Regions from separate parts of the Homo sapiens genome. Here region 2 is reported to be linked to region 1. Evidence: microRNA targets listed by miRTarBase, many of them from high-throughput screens and not tested one by one. Region 1 holds a microRNA gene; the other region holds the end of a gene's coding sequence.
What was found. Region 1 holds the annotated microRNA hsa-miR-518d-5p (CUCUAGAGGGAAGCACUUUCUG, at 1,624-1,645, opposite strand). A microRNA usually pairs through its seed, bases 2 to 8, with sites in the 3' UTR of a target mRNA and lowers its output. Matches are read on the target gene's strand: a 7mer-m8 pairs with bases 2 to 8, a 7mer-A1 pairs with bases 2 to 7 and ends in A, and an 8mer does both.

Region 2: the mRNA of TAS2R30 is a reported target of hsa-miR-518d-5p. Seed matches in the 3' UTR shown: 7mer-A1 at 4,331-4,337.

What each region holds. Positions count from the first base shown.
Region 1 is chr19:53,731,152-53,736,536 of GRCh38, reverse strand. MIR518D (microRNA 518d) reads right to left here and starts at 1,660; the gene lies at 1,574-1,660. It also overlaps the pseudogene RNU6-980P.
Region 2 is chr12:11,128,831-11,134,215 of GRCh38, forward strand. TAS2R30 (taste 2 receptor member 30) reads right to left here. Exons shown (of 1, transcript NM_001097643.2): 1 at 4,128-5,385. The coding sequence ends at 4,455. All of the region lies in intron 1 of PRH1-TAS2R14 (PRH1-TAS2R14 readthrough), which reads right to left. The region is part of intron 1 of PRH1-PRR4 (PRH1-PRR4 readthrough); the gene reads right to left. It also overlaps a transcript of PRH1 not described here. Among named protein-coding and RNA genes, the nearest start is that of TAS2R30, 3.1 kb to the right of the region's middle.

The DNA.
Region 1 (5,385 bases):
TGTTCACTTGAGTTCCAGTATAGGCACACAGTCCCAGTGGGAGCATCCAAAATGGAATCTACGATGTTGAAGAATATACATTGTCATACGCACAAATATTCTCCAGAATAGATCACAGGCTTGGTCATAAAAACTCCTTAACACAATTTTAACATAAATACACAAGTACAGGTGGGGCACGGTGGCTCACACCTCTAATTCTAGCACTTTAGGAGGCCAAGACGGGAGAATCACCTGAGGTCAGGAGTTCGAGACCAGCCCCGGCAACATGGTGTAACCCCATGTGTACAAAAAATACAAAAGTGAGCCGGGTGTGGTGGTGCATGCCTGTAGACACTAATGCAGCAGGCTTAGGTGGAAGGCGGAGGTTGCAGTGAGCTGAGAACGCACCACTACACTCCAGCCTGGGTGATAGAGCCAGACCTTGTCTCAAAAATAACCAACCAAACAAATAAAACACACACACACAGAAACAAACCAAAAAATACCCAAAGTGATATCAGAGTATTCTCTGTATTCAAATCAGCATTTTGTGTGTATATGATTATGTTATATATATGATATATTATATATATGATAAATTTAACTGGGGGCTGGGTACGAACAAAATAACAGTCCTTACTTTCTTCTTGTCTGTGCATGGGTTAATATTCACATGTAGTCCCATCTACCTAGGACTGGGGAGGGGCAGAGGCAGGAGGATCTAAGACCACTTTAGCCAGGGCGGCACAGTGAGACCCCTGTCTCATGCATTTATTTCCTGGTCATGCACCCAAGATTTCAGCTTCATTTCCCCAATAAACACTGAAGCCCCATGCACTCCACCTCCGTGCTCTTGCTCATCCCATCTGCAGGGACACTGAGGTCCCCTCAACTCCACCTGACCCCATGTGAGGTTCTATACCAGTGCCAGAATAATTTCCATGCAGTAAAAGGTGTTGATGGCTGCGCAGTGGCTCATGCTTGTATTCTCTGGACAACATGGTGAAACCCCCTCTTTAGTGAAAAAAAAAAAAAATAATAATAATAATAATAATACAAAAAGTAGCCGGGCCTGGTGGTGTGTTCCTGTAATTCCAGCTACTCCAGAGGCTGAGGCAGGAGAATTGCTTGAACCTGAGAGGTACAGGTTGTAGTCAGCCGGGATCGTGCCACTGCCCTCTAGCCTGGTCGACAGCGAGACTCCATCTGAAAAGTAAATAAATACATGAATAAAAAAGAAAAATACAAATGTTAGCCAAGGATGATGTCAGGCGCCTGTAATCCCAGCTCCTCAGGAAGCTCAGGAAGGAGAATTGCTTGAGCCCAGGAGACAGAGGTTGCAGTGAGCCGAGATCACGCCACTGCACTCCAGCCTGGGTCACAGAGCAAGACTCTGTCCCAAAAAAGAGGACTATCTGAGCGCAAGAGACCTAGGTTGGAAGTGCTTATGGACTCCAGCCTGGAAAATACAGATTTTGTCTTAGGAGAAAAAAAAAAAAAAAAGCACAGAACCCCGATATCATCCAAGTCTGATGATAAGCATCCTCTACAAATGTATTACTGAAGTCAGCATCAACTTCAACATTGAGTTTCTCAAACCGTAACGCTCCAAAGGGAAGCGCTTTGGTTTCTTTCAGACAACAGAAAGTGCTTCCCTCTAGAGGGTCACAGCATGGGATCTTCTCACTCCAGCACTCTGGGTTTCTTGTTGGAATTTTCCTTGACCAGGTTAAAGTGGATAGAAAAATAAAAATATATTTATTGGTCCTGTTTGCCTGTTTTCTGGAATCCAGAACATAAACCCCTAAAAGGACCATCTCTGGTTCTTTGCTTCAAAGAATCAGCAGGTTAGCCTTGCTCATCAAGGGGCAATCCTCCTGAGTTTTGTCTCTGGAAAGAAAAAGCAATGCCTACTACACATACCTTATCTTTAACCAAGAGAATTGGGCTGAATTTCTAGAGAACAGCAATGGATGTACAGCCAAGTGTTCACTTGAGTTCCAGCACAGGGACACACAATCCCCTTGGGAGCCTCCAAAATAGAATCTAAGACGTTGAAGAATATAAATTGTCACACACACAAGCATCCTCCAGGATAGACCACAGTTTAGGCTGACTTAAGAGGACCACTTGAGGCTAGGCGCAGTGGCTCATGCCTGTAATCCCAGCAGTTTGGAAGGCTGAGGCAGGTGGATTACCTGAGGTTAGGAGTTTGAGACCAGTCTGGCCAACATGCTGAAACCCTGTCTCTACTAAAAACACAAAAATTAGCTGGGTGTGGTGGTGGACGCCTTTAATCCCAGCTACCCGGGAAGCTGAGGCAGGAGAATCGCTTGAACCTAAGAGAAGGAGGTTGCATTGAGCCGAGATTGTGCCATTGCACTCCAGCTTGGGCAACAAGAGTGAAACTCTGTCTCAAAATAAATAAATCAATAAAAATAAAGAAATACACAAGTACGGGTGAGGCACGGTGGCTCACACCTCTAATCCCAACATTTTATGAGGCCGAGGCAGGAGGATCACTTTAGCTCAGGTGTTGGAGACCAGCTCAGGTAAAATGGTGAAACCATTTTGTAGTCTCAGGTAAAATGGTGAAACCATTTTGTAGTCTCAGGTAAAATGGTGAAACCATTTTGTAGTCTGTAGAAAAACTACAAAAGTTAGCCAGGTGGCTGGGTGTGGTAGCTCATGCCTGTAATCCCAGCAATTTGGGAGTCCGAGGCAGGTGGATCACTAGAGGTCAGGAGTTGGAGACCAGCCTGACAAGCATGGGGAAACCTGTATCTACTCAAAATACAAAATTAGCCAAGTGTGATGGTGCATGCCTGTAATCGCAGCTACTTGGGAGGCTGAGGCAGGAGAATCACATGAACCCGGAAGGCGGAGGTTGCAGTGATCTGAAATCTTGCCATTGTACTCCAGCCTGTGCAACAAGAGCAAAATTCCCTCTCAAAAAAAAAAGGTAGCCCACTGTGGTGGTGCATGCCTGTAGACACACTAATTCAGGACGCATAGGTGGGAGATGGAGGTTACAGTAAGCCGAGATCGCACTACTACACTTTTGCCTGGGTGACAGAGCCAGACCTTGTCTCAAAAACAAACAAAAACCACACACACAAGAACAAAAAACAATCTCATAGTGATATGAGTAACCTCTACCTCCCAGGTTCAAGCGATTCTCCTGCCTCAGGCTCCCAAGTAGCTGGGATTACCCGTACCTGCCACCATGCCCGGCATATATACATATATATATATATGTATTTATCGTAGAGACGGATTTTCACCATGTTGGCCAGGCTGGTCTTGAACTCCTGACCTCGGGTGATCCACACGCCTCAGCCTCCCAAAGTGCTGGGATTACAGGCTTGAGCCACTGTGCCCAGCCACATCATACATTTTTGAGACCATGTCTCAAAGAAAATAAAGATCTACATATTGTATGCTCACAGGAAGAATAATACCTAAACATAAGTGCTTGCTTTGCTGGTGCACATAAAAAAAAATTGGATTGACAGAGATTACCCTGGCCCCCACACAGAGGTGACACCCAAATTCATGATGGTTCCATATTTATCTTTTATTTATTTATTTATTTTTTTTTTTTAGACCAAGTCTTACTCTGTCGACAGGCTGCAGTGCAGTGGCACGATCTTGGCTCACTGCAACCTCTGCCGCCCAGTTGGAACGATTCTCCTGCCTTGGTCTCCCGAGTAGCTGGTATTACAGGCACCTGCCACTGCACCTGGCTAATTTTTGTATTTTTCGTAGAGATGAGGCTTTGCCGTGATGCCGCAGCTGGTCTTCAACTCCTGACCTGAGGTGATGCCCCCGTCTCGACCTCCAAAAGTGCTAGCATTACAGGTGTGTGCCACCGTGCCTGGCCTATTTTTTATTTTTTTGAGATTGAATCTTATTCTTTTGCCCAGGCTGTAGTTCACTGGCGCGATCTCAGCTCACTGCAACCTCTGCCTCCCGGCTTCAAGCGATTCTCCTGCCTCATCCTCCTGAGTAGCTGGGATTACAGGCGTGCAGCACAACCACGCATGGCTAATTTTTGTATTTTTAGTACAGATGGGGTTTCACCATGTTGGCCAGGCTGGTCTCAAGCAGCTGACCTCAGGTGATCCTCCTGTCTCTGCCTACCAAAATGATGGAATTACAGGCGTGAGCCACCATACCTGACCTTGTCCTATGTTTAAAATCAGGAGCAAAAAAAGATGCTCACATCTAAACAGCAAATCATTTGTTGTTCAAGTACATCTCAAATACATTGTTTATCTAAAATACAAATTTAACTGGGGGTGGGACGTGAATCAAAGAACAGTCCTTACTTTCCTCTTCCTGTACGTGAGTTAATATTCACATGTAGTCCCAGCTACTAAGGACTGGGGAGGGGCAGAGGCAGGAGGATCTAAGCCCACATTAGCCTGGGCGGCATAGTGAGACGCCCGTATTGTTGCATATACGACCTGGTCATGCACCCAAGATTTTGGCTTTATTTCTCCAATAAAAACTCAAACCCCATGCATTCCACCTCCGTGTTCTTGCTAAGCAGTGCACATCCCACCTGCAAGGACATTGGGGTCCCCTTCAACTCTACCTGACCCCAAGCGAGGTTCTATAAACCAGTGCCAGAATAATTTCCGTGGACCAAAAGGTGTTAATGGCCAGGCACGGTGGCTCACGCCTGTATTCTCAGCACTTTGGGAGGCCCAGGCGGGCAGATCACCTAAGGTCAGGAGCTGAGTTCAGCCTGGCCAACATGGTGAAACCACGTCTCTGCTAAAAATACAAAAATTAGGCCAGGCATGGGGGCGCATACCTGTGATCCCAGAAATTTGGGAGTCAGAGGTGGGTGGATCACTTGAGGTCAGGAATTTGAGACCAGCCTAGCCAACACGGTGAAATCCAGTCTCTACTTAAAAAAAATATACAAAAAGTAACTAGGTGCGGTGGTGTGCTTCTGTAATTCCAGCTACTCAGGAGGCTGAGGCAGAAGAATTGCTTGAACCGGGGAGGCAGAGGTTGCAGTGAGCCGAGATTGTGCCACTGCCCTCCAGACTGGGTGACAGCGAGACTCCGTCTCAAAAATAAATAAATAAATAAATTTTAAAAAATACAAATATCATCCAGGTATGGTGATGAACGCCTGTAATCTCAGCTGCTTGGGAAGCCGAGGCAGGAGAATTGCTTGAACCTGGGAGGCAGAGGTTGCAGTGAGCCGAGATCGCCTCACTGCATATCAGCCTGGGTGACAGAGAAAGACTCTGCCCCCTAAAAAGGACCATTTGAATTCAAGAGACCTGGGTTGGACATGTCACTGCACTCCAGCCTGGGCAACAGAGATCCTGTCTTAGAATAAAAAAGCAAAACCGAAAACAGAACCCCGGCATTGTCCAAGCC
Region 2 (5,385 bases), not on the chromosome of region 1:
AATTTTACCTGTTTGCTATAAGCAGGAACCAAAGATTGTTAATTATTGATTTGATCCTGTTTCTCTTGATATTTGACACCAGTGAGAACTTCCACCTTTTTTTTTGTTCTGAGACAGCATCTCCCTCTGTTACCCAAGCTGGAGTACAGTGGCACAATCATAGCCCACTGCAGCCTGGAACTCCTGGGCTCAAGCAATCCTCCTGCCTCAGCTTCTCAACTATTTGGAACTATAGGCATGTACCACCATGCCAGGTAATTTTTAAAATTTTTTGTAGAGACGGAGTTTCCATATGATGCACAGGGAACTCCTGCTCTCAAGGGATCTTCACACCTTGGCCTCCCAAAGTACTAGGACTACAGGCATGAGCCATCACATCCAGCCCGCAGTGGGAGTTTTGAAGGTCAGATGCTACCTAGAGCTTCGGCTCATGTCCATCCCAAGGTGGATCTAATCAGTTTGTAGTTATTACCTCTTCCTGAATTGAAATGGATACGTATGGCAGCTGGCAGGACTCTCACATTCTTCGTGAACTGTAGAGTAAGGAACATTATTATAGCAGGACCAAGGGAAAGCCTCTGAAATTCTCCTCTACTGGCAACAAAATATATAAAATATAATAACCGCATTCCCTAAGGAATGGAACTGGTCACTGTCATGACAAAACACCTGAAAGTTACAGGGGATGGTAGTCTTTTCTATAACCCGATTCACTTAACCTATCTGGCCTCTACCAAAACCAGATGGGTTATCGAATGAATGCAGACTACCATAAACTTAAATCAACACTCACAAATGCTTTCCAGGATGTGCTATCTTCACTGAGCAGAGCAGAGCTTCTGGTACTTTTTGTGGGGCTAGTGATTTGGTGAATGGTTCTTAATCTACACCCATTATGAGGGAAAATCAAAACAATTTGCCTTGTAAGAATAATAGCACTGCTTCACTGTTGTATGTCAGGGCTATGTCACTTCTGTTCTCAGTTTAATTTACATTTTTTAAAACATCCTGCCAGTTTAATGTATTGATAATATTACAGACCGGGCCCTGTGGCATATGACTGTAATCCCAACACTTTAGGAGGCCGACACAGGCAGATCACTTGAGCCCAGGAGTTTGAGACCAGCCTGGGTAACACGGTGACATCCCAGCCCTACAAAAAATACCAAAATTAGCCAGGCATGGTGTTGTGCCCCTGCAGTCCCAGCTGCCAGCAATGCCGAAGTGGGAGAATCACTTGTGCCCAGAAGGTTGAGGCTGCAATGAGCTGTGATCCTGCCACTGCATTCCAGCCTCAGGGACAGAAAGAGACCGTGTCTCAAAATAATACCAATAATAATATATTAGTTGGTACAATAATCAGGAAATGGCAAGTTTCTTCAGTATAGTAAAATATTATAACATTGAGCAGAAGTAAAATACCAGAAGAAAATAGATAAATCAGAGAAGATTCAGGGACCGACAACATAGGTGATGTTTTAAGGTTTTTAGTGTCCCTAGTCCACATGCTGAGACAATCTTTTTTACAGTAAACGGCATTTTGCTCTCTCTATATATTTCCTATCACTACAAAAGAGACACTATGTTTTGGGGGCCTACTGGGATTTTGGAGACAACATATTCCACATTTGAGAATATTGCTCTGACTCACGAACGATGTTTCTAAAGGCTACTGGTCTCAAATGGAGCCCAGAACTAAAGAGGGCTCTACAGAAGATATAGGCTCTGGTCCAGGCTGCTCTGGCCACTGTGCCAGATGATCCAGCGGAATTCAAAGCTGCTAGAGGCATGCATAGTGGGCATTATAGGACTCTGTGCATGTCTCTGACAAGCCTGTAGGAGAGGGGAGAGCAAATCCCTATGGAATCAGTGTAAGACCAGTGTAAGACCATTCCCTCTTCAGCAGAGGGAATGCTGAAGTATACTCTGTCTGAAAAGCCAAACAGCAAGTGCAGAACATTAATCCAAGCATAGAGTCACTCTAAGCACAAGCCCCTATAAGCACAAAACCCTGTACAACTGTGCAAGTCATATGCTCATAAAGCCAGCCATGACTGGAGGGTATGAGCACGTCTCAGTGGCACAAGGAGTGGTGGTATTGGACACAAACATGTGCTTTCTCAGATTCCCTTCACTATCTCCTGTTCCCCTGGTCAGCACCTTGCCTGATCCAGATCATCCTTCCATTTGGGACTTGAATGCATCACCACACTGTGGGCATGAGGTCTGACTTTCATGACCACCACCAAGGGACTGGATGATGTAAGACAGAACAACAGAGATGGTAGTTCTAACTCAGGGAAACCCTGGCCAAGGGGAAACAGAAGACTAACGACAGCTGAGCAGATACATTCTCCCTCCTCTCTCTCTCTTCCATGGACTAATGCCAGCTGTGGTTTCCCTTTGTAGCCCTTCTGGAAAAGTTCTGGGAGTCAAGTGCATGCATCTGATGACCACCATGCTGTCTCTCTCACCTCACTGTGAAGTGGCTGCCAGCAGTCATACCAGACATCACCACACATTGTTTCACATCGGTTCTTGTCTCAATTTCCACATGTCCCTGCCATTTTTGTCTTGAATTGGCCTTCCATATAAATGTCATCACTTTAATATCAGGTATTACGTTAAAAACATTTTAGTAAAGTAGCTGGTTACTAACTCAATTTTTTGAAATGAAATGCCATTTTTATATGATAATCAACTAGAAAATATCATAATACAAATATATAATTCACAATAGAAAAAAATACATACGCAAATAGACCAAAGTCTTTTATATGCTTTTTTAAAATATTGTAATAGTGGCATCTAATTTTGATGTTCTACCTTGTCGCCAATTCAGACACCTGATACAGCTGCATCAAGACTATATTATTGTGATATTTCCCCTAAAATTGTGGAATAGCCAAACTTTTCCTCTGAGGAAGGATTCTGCTTGGATAAGCCTGTAATCTTAACCTGAGACCAGAACAGGGGAACTCATGCAACTGCAGATTTTGTGATGAGTTTCCCTTTCATTGGTTTACCACATCAGCTTACCCATTTTATCCACCCATTTATTTGTTCATTAAAATATCATTTTTGACCATCTATTCCTTGTGCTGGGTTCTAGGTCCTGGGAGTCAACAGAAAGCCTGACAGACACGATCTCTTCTTTTATGGTTCTTACATTGTACTGAGGAAGATACATGATTCTAAAAAATACATGAATCAGGTGTGGGGATGATTTATCTTAAGGTCTGAACAACATTGTTAAAATTTCATAACACCAAGAATTAATACAGTCATGTAGAATTTAGCTGTAAACAAGACTGTACATTTCCTTCTTATAATAGAACTTCCCATTAATGAATATGTCAAGACAATTCCATTTAATCATTGACAACAAAATTACACTAGGACAAATCCCATAATTAATACATAGATTTCATAGATACTATTTTAACACTTAAAAAAAGTTTCACTGAATTATTTTCCATAATTTTTATACTATTTTCACATTGACAGATTTTTTTTTAGAAAACGGAAGACTGGAGTTCTCTTATCTGAAGTTTAGAAAGAATTTTAAAAATGGAAGATAAGGATATAATTAGCAATTCAGGGGCTTAGAAGTGCTTTAGAAAAAATACTAAAATAATTTACATCTGAGCTCAATTTCAAAAAAAGTTTTTCTTTAATTGAAAAGCTGGAAGAAATGACTGTTCTAACTGCATATGGAAGCTGATAATAGCAATCAAGATCATGATCATGATTTTTCATCCCTCTTATAGCAGAGATTTTTTTCTAAGCTATTCACATACTTGTATTAAATCTAATATTCCTCAGTACTGTTTATGGTACACATACATGAAATTTACTATACGTATACTTCTCACTCAAATTTTATTGTGTTCATTGTTTTGTAACAATAATTCTGATTGCTTTTTACTAAACATAAAATAGGAATTCATAATGGAATAAAACCCTGAAGATACATCCTCATTAGTGATTAAGAATTGAACGACCTTATTATCAAAAAGTTATAGGTTAAAACAACAGATTGTAAGCACACTGTGGTATATTTGTGTCATTCAAATAACAATAGAAAAGAGCAATATTTTTCCTGAGATAAGCTGTTAGTTCTTAATAATTATAAATAGATATAAATTCTACAAATGAAATATAAAATACATGTATGAAATAAACATGGCTTCATAATTGAGGAATTTTTGTCATATTTTCTATAATTTGGCAGTTTTTGTGAAAAAACAATAAAAAGCATGTTATTGTCAATGTTCTTCAGTTTTTCATACACACACACACACACACACACATCTATATATATGTACTTTTCTAGACTAACTTTAGGTAAAAGACTTTTCTAGGTATACATGTGGAAATTATTCATATACATATATTACAGAAAACCCAGTAAGAAATATAAAATGTTTCATACACCACCAGTTTGTTTTCTGCTAGAAGACACACAATGCCCCTCTTGTGAATCTATGGAGACGAAGGCTTCTGTCTTTCACCCAGTACCTCACATGCCGCAAAACTGAAAGAAAAATCTGCTTTAGCTTCTTGTTTCCCAAAATCAGGATGAATGGGTGGGTTGAAGGATAGCTGAATATAATAGCTTGGCAGAACATGAAGACAGGTTGCTTTTCCAGCCTCCCAAAATTACAAACTGATATGATCATGGACAGAAAGTAAATGGCACATAACAGAAGAAAGGAGGTCACAGTTTGCAAAGCTTTTATGTGGACCTTGGTGCTGGGATCTTGAGATCCTTTGCCATGGAGCTGCATCTTCTTGAGATGTTTACACAGAGAACAGATTAACAGCAGAAAAGATATCAGGGTCAGAGTGAGGGGTACAAAGTTTGCTAGCATGGTTAGAGTCATATTTGAATGGTACATTGCACTCCTCAATTTGATCTTCCAAGTCACGTTTCCTTCATATTCTTTTGTCCATACAGTCTCATCCATGTTTATCACAAAAAGATGACAAACCAAAAATAGCAAAGGCCCCAACAGTATCACCAGAACAACACTCTTAACTCTCCTCTTTATGCGAAGAAAAATAAGGTTGGAGAAATTGGCAATCCTGAGCAAATAAAACATGCTGAGGCTAGTAGCAAGCCAGCTGCTGAAATGGTTGGTTACTGCCCAGACATTATAAGCAGTAATTCTTACTTCTACACTATAAAAAGCTGGATTCAACTGAGTTGCATACCAATGTAGTAATAACACCCAGAGCAAACCAACTCTGGAGACCGCCAGAGCAGTGAGAATTTGGTCAACAAAGGAGATCTTTTGTCTCTTGACCCACTCAATGGAATTTACCAATGCTATGAAGCCATTAGCAAAATTTCCAATAACAAATATAACCACTATTAGAATG